3 separate regions of the Homo sapiens genome follow, and all the other regions are reported to be linked to region 2. The links are microRNA targets in miRTarBase. Many come from high-throughput screens and were not tested one by one. Region 2 holds a microRNA gene; each other region holds the end of a gene's coding sequence.

Region 1 (4,104 bases), not on the chromosome of region 2:
GCGGGTGGGTTAGCCAGGATGGCTGCAGCAGGGCTTCTGAGGAGCTCGCTACTGAGTCAGGTCCTTCATTTCCTACCTTATTCATCCTGGAACCCCGCGGTGACTTTGATGTTATTACCCCTCCCGCCAGCGAGGCCCTGAGGTCCCAGAAAGTACGTGAAGTGACCGGCTGGGTTTCTTGGCCTCCTACCCCACTCATGCCACAGCGTCTTAGGAGGGCTGTTGAATTTTGCAGCAAACACGTTGGCCAAAGAAGTCTCCCCTGATGGCATTGGTCTCTGTTTCAGATCATCACTGCCCTGGAGGAGGATGGCACGGCCCAGAAGATGCAGCTGGGCTATCGGCTCCAGCAGATTGCAGCTGCTGTGGAAAACAAGGTCACAGATCTATAGGAACCCAGGAGCCACGGCCTGCTGTTGCTTCAGCCTGGCCTGGGCAGCCCTGGAAGCTCGGAGGAGAGGCCACCTTCTTAGGTGCCTGTAGTGACTGACAAGCAGAGTTAGTGGAAGGTGACTCCCAGTCTCCTGGTGGCTCTGGCCTCGGCCCTGCTGGATCCACCTCCTAGACCCGGGGCCTCAAGGCTCATGGGGTAGTACCCAGCCTGCTCCCCGAGTCCAGCGACCCTGTGACACCGGTCTGCAGGGAGTTGGGGACTAAGGGCTTCCAGAGAGTGGCTGGAAGAGACTCCAGGCCCCTGGGGAGACTGTACTGTTCCTGAACACTGGCCTTGGCCACACTGGGATTCGGAGAGGAAGGAGGAGAGCCCCATGCTTCCTGTCTGCCTCCTCCACCATCCCTGACCTCAGTTGAGCTGCCTCTGGCCTTGTTGCTGCTGCCACATCCTAGGTCTAAGAGTTGAACGCCTCTCCTAGGCCACTACAAACTGACCCCTCAGCAGGGCTGGCTGCCACAGGGCTGCCCTGCCTCATAGGTAGCCATGGTGAGGGCTATCTGCTGCAGGGGGGTCTTGGGGAGAGTGGTGACTCCATTGACCCAGCTTTTCATTAAAGGATAACACACTGCACTGAGTCTGATGTGTGAGCCCGGCCTAGCCCCTGGCTACTAGGAGGACGGCAGCTATGCCCAGCAGGTACCAGGGGGAGGTGGTATCTATACTCTTGGGGAGTCTCATGGTTCCCCATCATATCCCAGACTGCAGGGCTGGCTGAGGCTCTCCTTGACGCCTGGGCAGGGTCTGGTGGGGTCAAAGCTTCCGTGAAGGAAGAACCCCATCTGGGGCAGGGCGGGTGACCGAGATAGAGGGGTCTACAGTCTCTTCAAGGGGGCCTGCTTTATCTGCAGTTTGCGTATTCTCACTTCTCCACTCATGTTCTATTTATCTTGAAAGGGACTAGGAAAGGATGACATAATTACAGGCAACTCTAGGCAGAGGGGGTCTCGAGGGCCATTTTCCATGGTCCTGTTCCTGGACTTAGGGTTTCTGTGTTGCCTTCCAAATCAGGGCATCCTAGGGCCGGCTCCTAAACTGTCTGCCTCCATGAAGGCCGCCTTATATGGTTCTTCCTGATTTGTACCTGGAGGTGAGCTTGGAGACTGTCTTATCTGGTCTCATGTTGCTAGTTGGGTCTGTAGGGCAGGGGGTTGATACTCCTCTTGACTTGAGACCACCCTCGGCCTTAGCAGAAGGCCAGCCCCCCATGGAACAGAAGAGATAGGGTGGCAGCTCTGCCTGGCAGATGAGAGGAAGGCCCTTCAGCCTTGAGGCCTTCAGAGGGATCATCCCTTTGGCCCTCTGCTTATCCTCCATAACCCAGTGACCCTTAGCATTTCCTCTCGTCTGGCACAGAGACCACAACCTCCCCTCGAGGTCTTCATTGAGTGTTTAGAGAGAGACAGACTGATAGAATTCCAGGAGGACTCCTATCCCCTGCCTTTTTTTGGCCCTAAATAAAGCCATCCACTGTAGGGTTGCCCCTACAATCCACAAAGTCCTTGTCCCTAAGGAGCCATGTTGGTCTTGTCTGTGCCGGGGGTAGTCATAGCTGCTATTCTTCGCTGTGGCTCCATTGTCCCTTCTTTCCCATTTCTGCCGGATGTGGGGACCACAGTCAGGTCAGCAGCCAGGTGCCATCATTTGGGAGCATGTGAGCTTGGATGCTCTGGCCAGGTTTTCATAGCCACCCAGAATGGTCCTGACTTTTCCCGTTGGAGACCATGGAATGGGTCTCCATCTTGACCATCTCTGGGAGCAGGGTGGATGGGAAATCCACTTGAGGGTGGACTTCAAGCAGACACAGAGGGAAGCAGCCTTGGTCAGCACCACAGACCTCGACAGAGCCATGCCTCTGTTCCAGAGGCCTCTCTGTTCCAGGTTCAGGCCCCTGCAGGTTTTAGGGGTAGGTGAAGGCTCCCGGGAGAGGGGGGCCATGTGCCTGCAAGCCTGGGCACGTGCCCGCGGGAGGGGTGAGTACTGAACGTGCTTTGAGTCACTCACTGAGTCATGGCTCAGCCGCCACAGAACATTGTTATAATAACAGACATAGAGAAGAAAAACCTGGCACAAGAAGATAGGAAATTCTGTCTTCACTCCAAACCATGACCAAGAATGGAGATTCCAACACCAGCAAGAATTTGTGATCGCTTAACTTGGGTCATGACCACAATTTCAGCATAGAACATTTGTAATTCAGTTTGATCAATCTTTTCCTAATTTTTATTAAGACTGCAACGAAAGTGTGCCCTCATTATTACATTTTTCACAAACCTGTTAGCATACAAAGGGCCTTTGTTTCTCATTACCACCCGGGGCTCCTTAAGGCGTTTTATGGAGTGATGTGCTTTATTAAAAAGCGTTTTCACCAACTTAAAAGTTGGAATAATTGTCCAAATGGTTACATGACCCAGGAGTTCTATATTTTTATTAATTTTCTGATACTGAAATAATCGTGCTAATTAAGATAACAGCTGAATTTATGCTGATGAATGTTGGAATTCTTAGAAGCCACCTGAAACCTTCCAAATGGTCAGGACCTGGATCCCACTGGCCAGTGCCAACAGGTGACTCTGGGTGGTGCTGGGGGATACAGGGAACCTAGCTGTGTTCTGCTTGGCACCAATGGCTGCTGATGCATGTGTTTCCTCCACCAGGTTCCCTAAGGATGCCACATTGAAGAACAAATACACCCCAAACTACCTAGGTCAGCTGACTGGCGATGTTTTATGGATCTCTCTTTAAAAGTGTTCTGTCGGCCAGGCGCAGTGGCTCACCCCTGTAATCCCAACACTTTGGGAGGCCGAGGCAGGCGGATCATCTGAGGTCAGGAGTTTGAGACCAGCCTGCCCAACATGGCAAAACCCCGTCTCTTCTAAAAATACAAAAAATTAGCCAGGTGTGGTGGCGGGCGCCTCTCATCCCAGCTACTCAGGAGGCTGAGACAGGAGAATCGCTTGAACCCGGGAGGCGGAGGTTGCACTGAGTCGAGATCGCGCCACTGCACTCCAGCCTGGGTGACGAGCAAAACTCCATCTCAAAAAAAAAAAAAAAAAAGTGTTCTCTGTCTTAATTAAGGATGATGGTTTATCCAATTCCAAATGTTTACCAAAAATCTAAGATAAGGATATCACCATGATGTTTGAAAGAGAATTTATGCCCTGGTTGTGATGTTGGGGTTTTATTGATAAGAGTTTCAGTTATCTGGATGATATGTGCACGTGTAAGGAAACAGAATGGTTTGCCAGTTGTCCAGGTGGCCATGAAGAGAACCTCTGGAGGTCTAGGAATGTGAAGCTCAGATTTTGGAAACCTGGTCCGGTGTCCTGGGCCACAGGTAAGTGGCTGAAGCTGGTGGTTTGCTGCCATCTTCTGGCCATAGTGTGGAATTTATCAGAAGCAGCTACCAATGAGGGTGTCTGGAGCTCTATAAATTGCAAGCCTGGGCAAGATAGCCAGACCCCATCTTTACGAAAACTGTTTAAAAATTAGCTGGGCATGGTAGCACACATCTGTAGTCTCAGCTATTTAAGAGGTTGAGGTGGGAGGATTGCTGGACTCCAGGAGTTTGAGGCTGCAGTGAAAGATTATGCCACTCCACTCCAGACTGGGTGACAGTGAGACCCTGTCTCTTCAAAAAAAGAGAGAGAGAA
Region 2 (4,104 bases):
TTTCCAGAGATCTTGCAACCTAACTCCCTCATTTTACCCAAGGGACTTTCAGGTTCAGAGACCTAGGCGCCTTTTACGAAGATTTTACTGAACTGCTAGGCTGGGGTGCTTACCAAGCTACTGTAATCTAAAAGTCTTAAAAATATAAACCGAGAGTAATTTCTTCCCACTGTGAAGAATGATCATGAGACCTAAATGAGTACGGCTGGAAACAAAACTGCACATACTTCCTGCCTGGCCAAGGAACTTGCTCACCATGGTTGGCTGCTGTCCCTGAGAGAGGAATCTCCTACCCCCAGAGAGGCAATAAAACTGAAGCTTCAGGACCCCTTCCAAGGCCCTAGACCTAATTATATATTTTTGATTTTGCATTCTTTTGCTCAAAAAGCTACTTCCTCCAATTTTATCAGCTTCAGGACCAGAAATCCTGAACTTTGCCCTGCCTGTCCTACCTCATAAATCCAAATGTCTGATGTTCCAATATGCTCTTGCTCAAAAGAGAACAGATAAGGGTGAGGATGACTCTGCCGGGACCAGGCTTGGGAAAACAGTACGGGGCTGGTAAGAAAGTTGGGTTGGGTATAATTTTGAAGGCTGGCCCACAAGATGTCTCAAACTCCTACCTTGTTTCTACCCCAGGAGCTTGTTGGCCAGACAAAGCCTGTCTCTCAGATTTACAGACCCAGGATTTTAGAGCTGGCAAAGGTCTCATTTTGTCATCCTCCCTAATTTTGCAGGCATTTAGAATGGCTTAAGCATCTTGGGCTACTGAATTCCCCTCCCTGGGAAGTGAGGTGACATTGTTGGCTAATTCTTTAAGCAGGTAGAGTATTTGTCTCACTTGTTAGATGTGATCTTCTTGGTGTGTCCTCGCATGGGTGGAAACCAGTAAATGAGGCCTACCCAGCTAAGCACTTCAATAAAACACAAACGACTGCAATTCTACACACTGTCACTTAGTGTCCATTCTGAGCAAAACTTCTGAGTTACTCTCTGAGGAAAGATGAAACTGCACAGGACAGTGCCTGTGGACAGTATTTTAAGCTTGTCCCTCATTTCATAGTAATAGCTACAATTTATTTACCACCTACTATGGACCCAGCATTTTATCAACAATTTCATTTGTATTTATTTATTTATTTATTTATTTATTTATTTAGAGATAGAGTCTTGCTCAGGTTACCCAGGCTGGAGAGCAATGGTGTGATCTTGGCTCACTGCAACCTCTGCATCCCTGGTTCAAGATAGTCTCCTGTCTCAGCCTCTCAAGTAGCTGGGATTATAGTCACCTGCCACCACGCCCGGCTAATTTTTGTATTTTTAGTAGAGACGGGTTTCACCATGTTGGCCAGGCTGGTCTTGAACTCCTGACCTCAAGTGATTCACCCACCTCAGCCTCCCAAAGTGCTTGGATTACAATCATGAGCAACCATGCCCTGCCATAGGTATTATCATTCTCCTTTCGTTGATGTGGAAACCAAGGCTCAGAGGTTATGTGACTTGTCCCGGGTACACATCTTCAGCATCCCTCTGCTTGTTTGGGGCATGTGGAGGCTAAAGTTTAGGGAGTGTCAGGCCAGAAGAGGAAGGCAGAAAGACAATGGCCTTGCCAAACCTCCTTTCTCCCTTTCACACAGGCCTGTGTTTAAGTCCTAGTTCTAACACATACTAGTTATGTGTGCCCTTGAGAAAGCTGCTGTTAATCTTGGTTTCCTTATTTATAAATTGAAGAAAATAACCCACTTCATAAAGCAATTGAGAAGATGAAATGATAGAATGTGAGCAGAGCTCCTTCACAGCACATTCAGGTACAAAATAGCTCATTTTGGTATAAACTGCTCACCCCCTAGCCCTGAATGCCCAATTTCTCATTTTCTTTATGTCTTTACTAAATTGTCTCCATCTTACTGAAACCTTCCCTGGCCACCCTATCTAAAAGGCAAACCCCATATAATCTCTTCACATCCCCTTTCTGCCTTATTTTATTACCAATTAATATATGACAAATTGTATTTATTTTGTCTTGTCCTGTCTCCACCCACAAGAAGGTAAATTTTTCTTAGGCCAGTAGGCATTGTCTGCGTTAGGAGGATGATACAGAAATCCTAACGCAGACAATGCCTACTGGCCTCAAAAAAATTTACCTTCTTGTAGGTGGAGACAGACAAGACAAAATAAGTACAATTTGTCATATATTAATTGGTAATAAAATGTATATTGGTCAAATGAATGAAAACAAACAACAAAAACAACAAAAAGAAGTTGGGAACCTAAAGACCTATGTTTGAATTTGGTTTTTTTCCTTACTATTTGACTCTGGGTCCATTACTTAAAATGTCTGGTCCTTAGCTTCCTCATTTGTAAAATAGGAAGAAAAATGGTATCTATTATTAAGACAGCTGGGATGACTAAATGACATAATTTATAAACCCTCTGGCATATAGCGAGTGCTCAATAAATGTTTGCCATTATTATTATTTGTAATAATCTGACCGATTGTTAAAACTGTCTTTCTGTGCAGCTCTGAGTTTTTAGGATATGGGAAGAGGCTAAAAGTCACCAGTGCCCTTGGCATTTTCGGCCCAGTTGTCCTCCTTGTTAACTGATTACCAGTTGAATGGGTGTGAAAGTGCTCAGTGTTCCCACCTCCAAGCTGCTCAGAGGTCAGCATTGCCATTCATTGAGAAATAACAGGCTGTGAGAGCTCAAATGACTTACTTATGGTCCCTCAACTTAAAAACCAGGGCACGCAGGAACCAAGCCCAGCCAGTCTTGGGCTTCCTAATACTGTAATTTCTCTCTACAGTGTGGGGTAGTTAAGAGCCTGTGACTTCAGACCTGTGGTCAACGGGGCCTTTCACCGGCCATCTCCCGCAGAGTACTTTTTCACAATCAGTTTTCTCGCAAGCAAAACGTGGAAAATAAGATCCACACCTCACAAGTTTGTGGCCAGGGTCACAGGTGAAAACAGCTCTTCGGAAACTCTAAAGCGCCGGATAAATAAGCGCTGCAACAGGCAACCACACGCGAACCCCTTTCAGCTGCCAGTCCCGGGACTCGCTCCTGTCTCCTCCCCTCTCCAAGACCGCGGAGTAGGAAGGAGGATTAACCCCTAGGGGAGGAGTTCCGCCCCCCAGCCCCCGCCCCGCCGCCCACGCCTCTCTCTGCACCTACACTTGCGCTCCCCAAGTCTCTCTCGTGCGCAGAGCCCAGGCTGCGCTTCCCTGGTCAGGCACGGCACGTCTGGCCGGCCGCCAGGATGCAGGCCCCGCACAAGGAGCACCTGTACAAGTTGCTGGTGATTGGCGACCTGGGCGTGGGGAAGACCAGTATCATCAAGCGCTACGTGCACCAGAACTTCTCTTCGCACTACCGGGCCACAATCGGCGTGGACTTCGCGCTCAAGGTGCTCCACTGGGACCCGGAGACTGTGGTGCGCCTGCAGCTCTGGGATATCGCAGGTGAGCGCGGGGGGAGGGGGTCAGGGGGATAGAGCGCCTCGCGGCCGGTTTCCAGTCTCGAGGCAGCGGCTTGCGGCCAAGCGTGAGATTAAAATCACTAGGTCGCGAGGCAGTTTTTCCTGGTGGGCTGGAAACTTAGTTTCAAAGAAAAGAAAAACGTCTGAAACTTCAAGTGCATTCCCTGGCGCTTTTGGGCTATTGCTTTAGCTCCTTCCCGCACAGTCCCCTGGGATCTCTCTGCCCAGAGCAGGCCTCCCCAGGGAACCAGAGGAAGATTGTCTGCAATTGCATTCTGTTCTCCACTCCAGCTCGTTTTCTGGGCGCGGGCAGTTCTGCCAATGACGCAGCCCAGTGTCACGCACGTCCTTCCGTGCAGGGGCGGACCGAGGGGAAGCCCCTAGGCTGGTTCACAGAGGAAACCGGGATAGTTCCAGGCTAGCTGGAGTTTGCCCATTCCTGTCTTCAGTGGCTCACTTTATTTCAAATTTTGTCACCTTTCTCTCTGCCCTTAAGACAAAGGAGTTTGAGGGTTTTTGTTTTGTTTTTTTTTTTTTTTTTTTTTGCTTTTTGCTTACAGTAAGCCAAGTACTTTTGTGTGTATATGTCAGGGGCAAAGTATTCTTTCTCCCTCTCTTTCTGTATT
Region 3 (4,104 bases), not on the chromosome of region 2:
AGTGGCCCTGTCAGTGGGGTGCCCATCTCTGTGGCTAATGTGACCGAGGTCAGTGGGCCCTGCCTTGTCTAATACTTGTAATGCCCTGAGTGTCCTCAGGTCATCGCTGACTGGGTGATTAGGGCAATTTGGAGGTGACAAAGTGGGTAAAATGTAATAGCACTTTACTTCTAAAATAAAAATGGTCAACAGCATTAAAGACTAGGACTCTTCTATTGCACTATTATGATGTCAAAATTATTATATTTGACTGGGAATTAGAACTATTTCAGTCCCCGTATATTTTCTAGAATTAGAACATTGTTTTGCTAGCCATGAAGTTTATCATCTTCTCATAAAACCATGCGTAGCTGGAATAGCCAAGGCGCCATTCAGTCACTCATTAGCCTGTTCAGCTCATTCATTCATTCCATAGGTGCTGAGCCGCACCTCCAAGGCTGCTCCCAGGGGTCAGGACAGTGGTTGGGAAGGAGGAGGCAGGTGGGCGGTAGCCAGTGGGACACAGAAGGTGATGGGGCCACAGAGATAGGTCTGTGTGCAGGGCCAGGGCACCTTCGTGCCCATGCAGGGAGGTGGGCAGGCCCAGCAGGTGAGGGCCACACCGCTGGAGAGGACGGAAGTGCCAAGCAGCCGCTTCCCTGTTGTTCTGCAGCTCCCTGGTCAGCACCAATGAACACCTGCTGCAGGAGCTGAGCCAGGTGCGGGCGCAGCACAGAGCCGAGGTGGAGCAGATGCACTGGAGCTACCAGGAGCTCAAGAAGACCATGGCCCTGTTTCCACACAGCAGCGCCAGCCATGGAGGCTGCCAGGCCTGCTGACTCCTGCCGAGAAGCTGGGCCACCCCTTAAGCTTCCTGGTAAAGTTACATTGTCTGCACCTTTGTACTTCTTTATTGAGTGTACTGGCTGGCAAGAGTTCTCTCTTCTGTTGGTAATTATTTAGGATTTTTGGAATGTATTCAGGACCTGTAGCTTGGTTTTCTAAAGCACCTCGTAAAATGATATGATTACTCCAAGCCCTCTGCATGTTTTCAGACAGAACACATTGACATATTTTGAGACAAACTGACTATTAATCTTGTATCCAGTATCCTGAGATGAAGTAAATGCAGTGTTCTACTGCCTGATGTGAAAGAGAGCTATGTATGATAATTAAAGAAAATAATTTTCTGTGTAACAAGCAATCTTTATTTAATAAACAAATACATTGTTCTGAAAAGTTAACTTTTTCAGTGGCTGTATACAAATTATAACTGAGTTTGTCATTGAGTTTTTTATAGAACAAGCTGTGCACCATGATAGGTGAGTGGGAATAATTAAGTTCAAAGACTTAACACAAGTGACACTTATAGATGTGGGGGAAAAAACCTTAAAAATATTGTCTTATGATATTAACATATCACAGCGGAAACATCTACCCAAGCCCTGGCTCGCTCTCTTGTTTGCAGTGTAGTTCTGAAAATTATGTCATAATAGGACACAAAACTAGATTTTTAGTTTGGAAACTTCATATCTTATGTCATACTTGCTGTGATTGGTAAGACAAGGTCATTTTTTAAATGACGTTCAACTGATTTGGGAAGAATGAGCAGGCCTAAGAAGAAAATGCTCTGTGCTAGCTCTGTGTGTGTGTGTGCCCTTGCTGTGTGTGTGTGTGCCCTTGCTGTGTGTGTGTGCTGTGTGTGCGCTAGTGTGCGCTTGCTGTGTGTGTGTGCTAGCTGTGTGTGTGTGCTGTGTGTGCGCCTAGTGTGTGTGTGCTAGCTGTGTGTGTGCTAGCTGTGTGTGTGTGCTGTGTGTGCTAGCTGTGTGCGCTTGCTGTGTGTGCTCTGTGCGCGTGCACTTGCTCTGTGTACTAGCTGTGTGTGCATGCTAGCTGTGTGTGCGCTTGCTGTGTGTGTGCTAGCTGTGTGTGCATGCTTGCTGTGTGTGTGTGCTTGTGCGCTTGCTGTGTGTGTGTGCAGTTGCTGTGTGCTAGCTGTGTGTACGCTTGTGTGTGCGCTGTGTGTGCGCGCACGCACCCTGTGTGTGTGCTGTGTGTGCACGCGTTGTGTATGTGCACTTGCTATGTGTGTGCTTGTGTGCTAGCTGTGTGTGTCTGCTAGCTGTGTGTGTGTGTGCTTCTGTGTGTGTGTGTGTGTGCGTGTGGATTGTATCCCTGGGGAAATCAGAGGTGGGACTCTGCTGTCTCTTCCCCGAAGAGGACTTGCTAGGCTTCAGGCTGCCCTCTTGTGTCACCTCTCTGTCCAGTTGTGGTCCTAACAGGAAAATGTGTCATACCAAATTTATTTTCTGTAGGGTTGGGATGGGGTTAATTTGTCATCACGTAATTTATGTATGTAAGAGTATTAGAAGATGTTAATATTAATCCACTTTAAGCTTATAGATGCTTACCTCGTTTGGGTTTCATTGAGCTTCTTGGACCTGTGAGTTCATATTTTTCACCAGATTTGGCAAAGTTGCAGCCACTACTCATATTTCTTGTCTGACCCCGTCTCTCACTTCTTCCTCCCTGTCCCCATCTGGGACTCTAGTTAGCTTTCTGTTAGACTGTGATACTGTCTCTCAGGTCACTAAACGTGATGCTTTTTCATCCTTGTTCTCTCATCCTTTCCTTTAGGTGGTTTTATTGTCCTGTTGCGAGGCTTACTAATCTTTTCTTCCACTTGCCTAATTTGATGTTAAGCTTGTATAGTGAATTTTTTATATCAGAAATTAGGTATATTTTTGTTCTAAAATTCCATTTGAGGCTAGGCGGGGTGGCTCACACCGTAATCCCAGCACTTTGGGAGGCTGAGGCAGGAGGATCACTTGAGGCCAGGAGTTTGAGACCAGCCTGGCCAACATGGCGAAACTCCATCTCTGCTAAAAATGAAAATTAGCTGGGCATGGTGGTGGGCACCTGTAGTCCCAGCTTCTTGGGGGGCTGAGGCAGGAGAATCGTTTGAACCTGGGAGGCGGAGGTTGCAGTGAGCCAAGATTGCAGCACTGCACTCCAGCCTAGACGACAGAGCAAGACTCCGTCTCAAAAAAAAAACAAAAAAACTCCATTTGATTTTTTTCATTAGTTTTATATCCCATTATGTTCACGTTTCCATTAACTGCTTAACCATGTTTTTAACAGGTTTACTAGAAATTCCCAACTGTTCCAAAGTGGTGGTACCCGCAGGCCCGACTGCTAGTTGTGTATGACCACGTCTGCCGGTCCATGTTTTCAGCACCCATTGCCTGAAGTGTTAGCACCTTCACTCCGGTGGGTGTGGGGTAGTGGAGGGAGTGGGGTGGTGGAGGGCGCGGGGTGGCGGAGGGCGCGGGGTGGTGGAACGTGTGGGGTAGACCTCTTTCTGGTTTCATTGGCTTCTCCTTGTTCAGCACCTTCTCATGTGTCTGCGGCTCATTGGGATTTCCTGTTTGTAAAGTACCTATTCAAGTATTTTCCCTACTTTTCTATTGGATGGTCTGTCTCATTTATTTGCAGGTGTTATTTATGATTCTGGGTAGTAGTGCTTTGTGAATTACATTTGCAAATAGCTTTTCTTGTCTTTTTACTTCAATGGTGTCTTTTAAGAGAAATTTTAAACTTTAATATGGCCCAATGTATCAATATTTTCTTTTATGATTAAAGCATTTTGGATCCTAATTTTTAATAATCTTTACTTTGCCTTGATCATAAAGATACTCTGTTACCTTCCAAAGGATTTTATAGTTTTGTATATTTTGGATTTTAGATATAGATTCTACCCAGAATTGATTTTTGCGCCTGTTGTGAAGCTTAAGGATCCAGTTTCATTGTGTTGCAGACATAAGCCCAGTTTTCCCAGTCCCGGCTGCTGAAGATTCCTTTGTCAGGATGATCTCTGTGTCCGTTTCTGCATCTCCTTGTCTGTCTCTGCCAATACCACACACTCTGGGGCGCGTACCTCCATCTTATGTTAGGATGTCTTGGCTGTTTTTGACCCTTTGTGTTTCATACATTTTAGAACTAGCCGGTCGAGTTGGGATTTTGTTTGGGATTGTGTTGAACCTGTAGATCAACTTGGGAATCATTGACGTACTTGCAGTACTGGGTTTTACAAGCTCTGAACATGGTATCTGTCTCTCCAAATGT

The links. The annotated mature microRNA hsa-miR-3166 reads CGCAGACAAUGCCUACUGGCCUA and lies in region 2 at 2,061-2,083, opposite strand. An mRNA with a match to its seed (bases 2 to 7 or 8) in the 3' UTR can be bound and repressed. Matches are read on the target gene's strand: a 7mer-m8 pairs with bases 2 to 8, a 7mer-A1 pairs with bases 2 to 7 and ends in A, and an 8mer does both.
Region 1: the mRNA of PLXNB1 is a reported target of hsa-miR-3166. Seed matches in the 3' UTR shown: 7mer-A1 at 635-641 and 7mer-m8 at 776-782.
Region 3: miRTarBase lists CEP72 as a target of hsa-miR-3166. Seed matches in the 3' UTR shown: 8mer at 869-876.

The regions. Positions count from the first base shown.
Region 1 is chr3:48,400,774-48,404,877 of GRCh38, reverse strand. PLXNB1 (plexin B1) reads left to right here. Exons shown (of 38, transcript NM_001130082.3): 38 at 288-1,024. The coding sequence ends at 392. Among named protein-coding and RNA genes, the nearest start is that of PLXNB1, 27 kb to the left of the region's middle.
Region 2 is chr11:88,174,540-88,178,643 of GRCh38, reverse strand. It overlaps MIR3166 (microRNA 3166), which reads right to left and starts at 2,142; the gene lies at 2,051-2,142. RAB38 (RAB38, member RAS oncogene family) reads left to right here and starts at 3,201. Exons shown (of 3, transcript NM_022337.3): 1 at 3,201-3,461. The coding sequence starts at 3,260.
Region 3 is chr5:652,336-656,439 of GRCh38, forward strand. It overlaps CEP72 (centrosomal protein 72), which reads left to right. Exons shown (of 12, transcript NM_018140.4): 12 at 653-1,218. The coding sequence ends at 818. Among named protein-coding and RNA genes, the nearest start is that of TPPP, 39 kb to the right of the region's middle.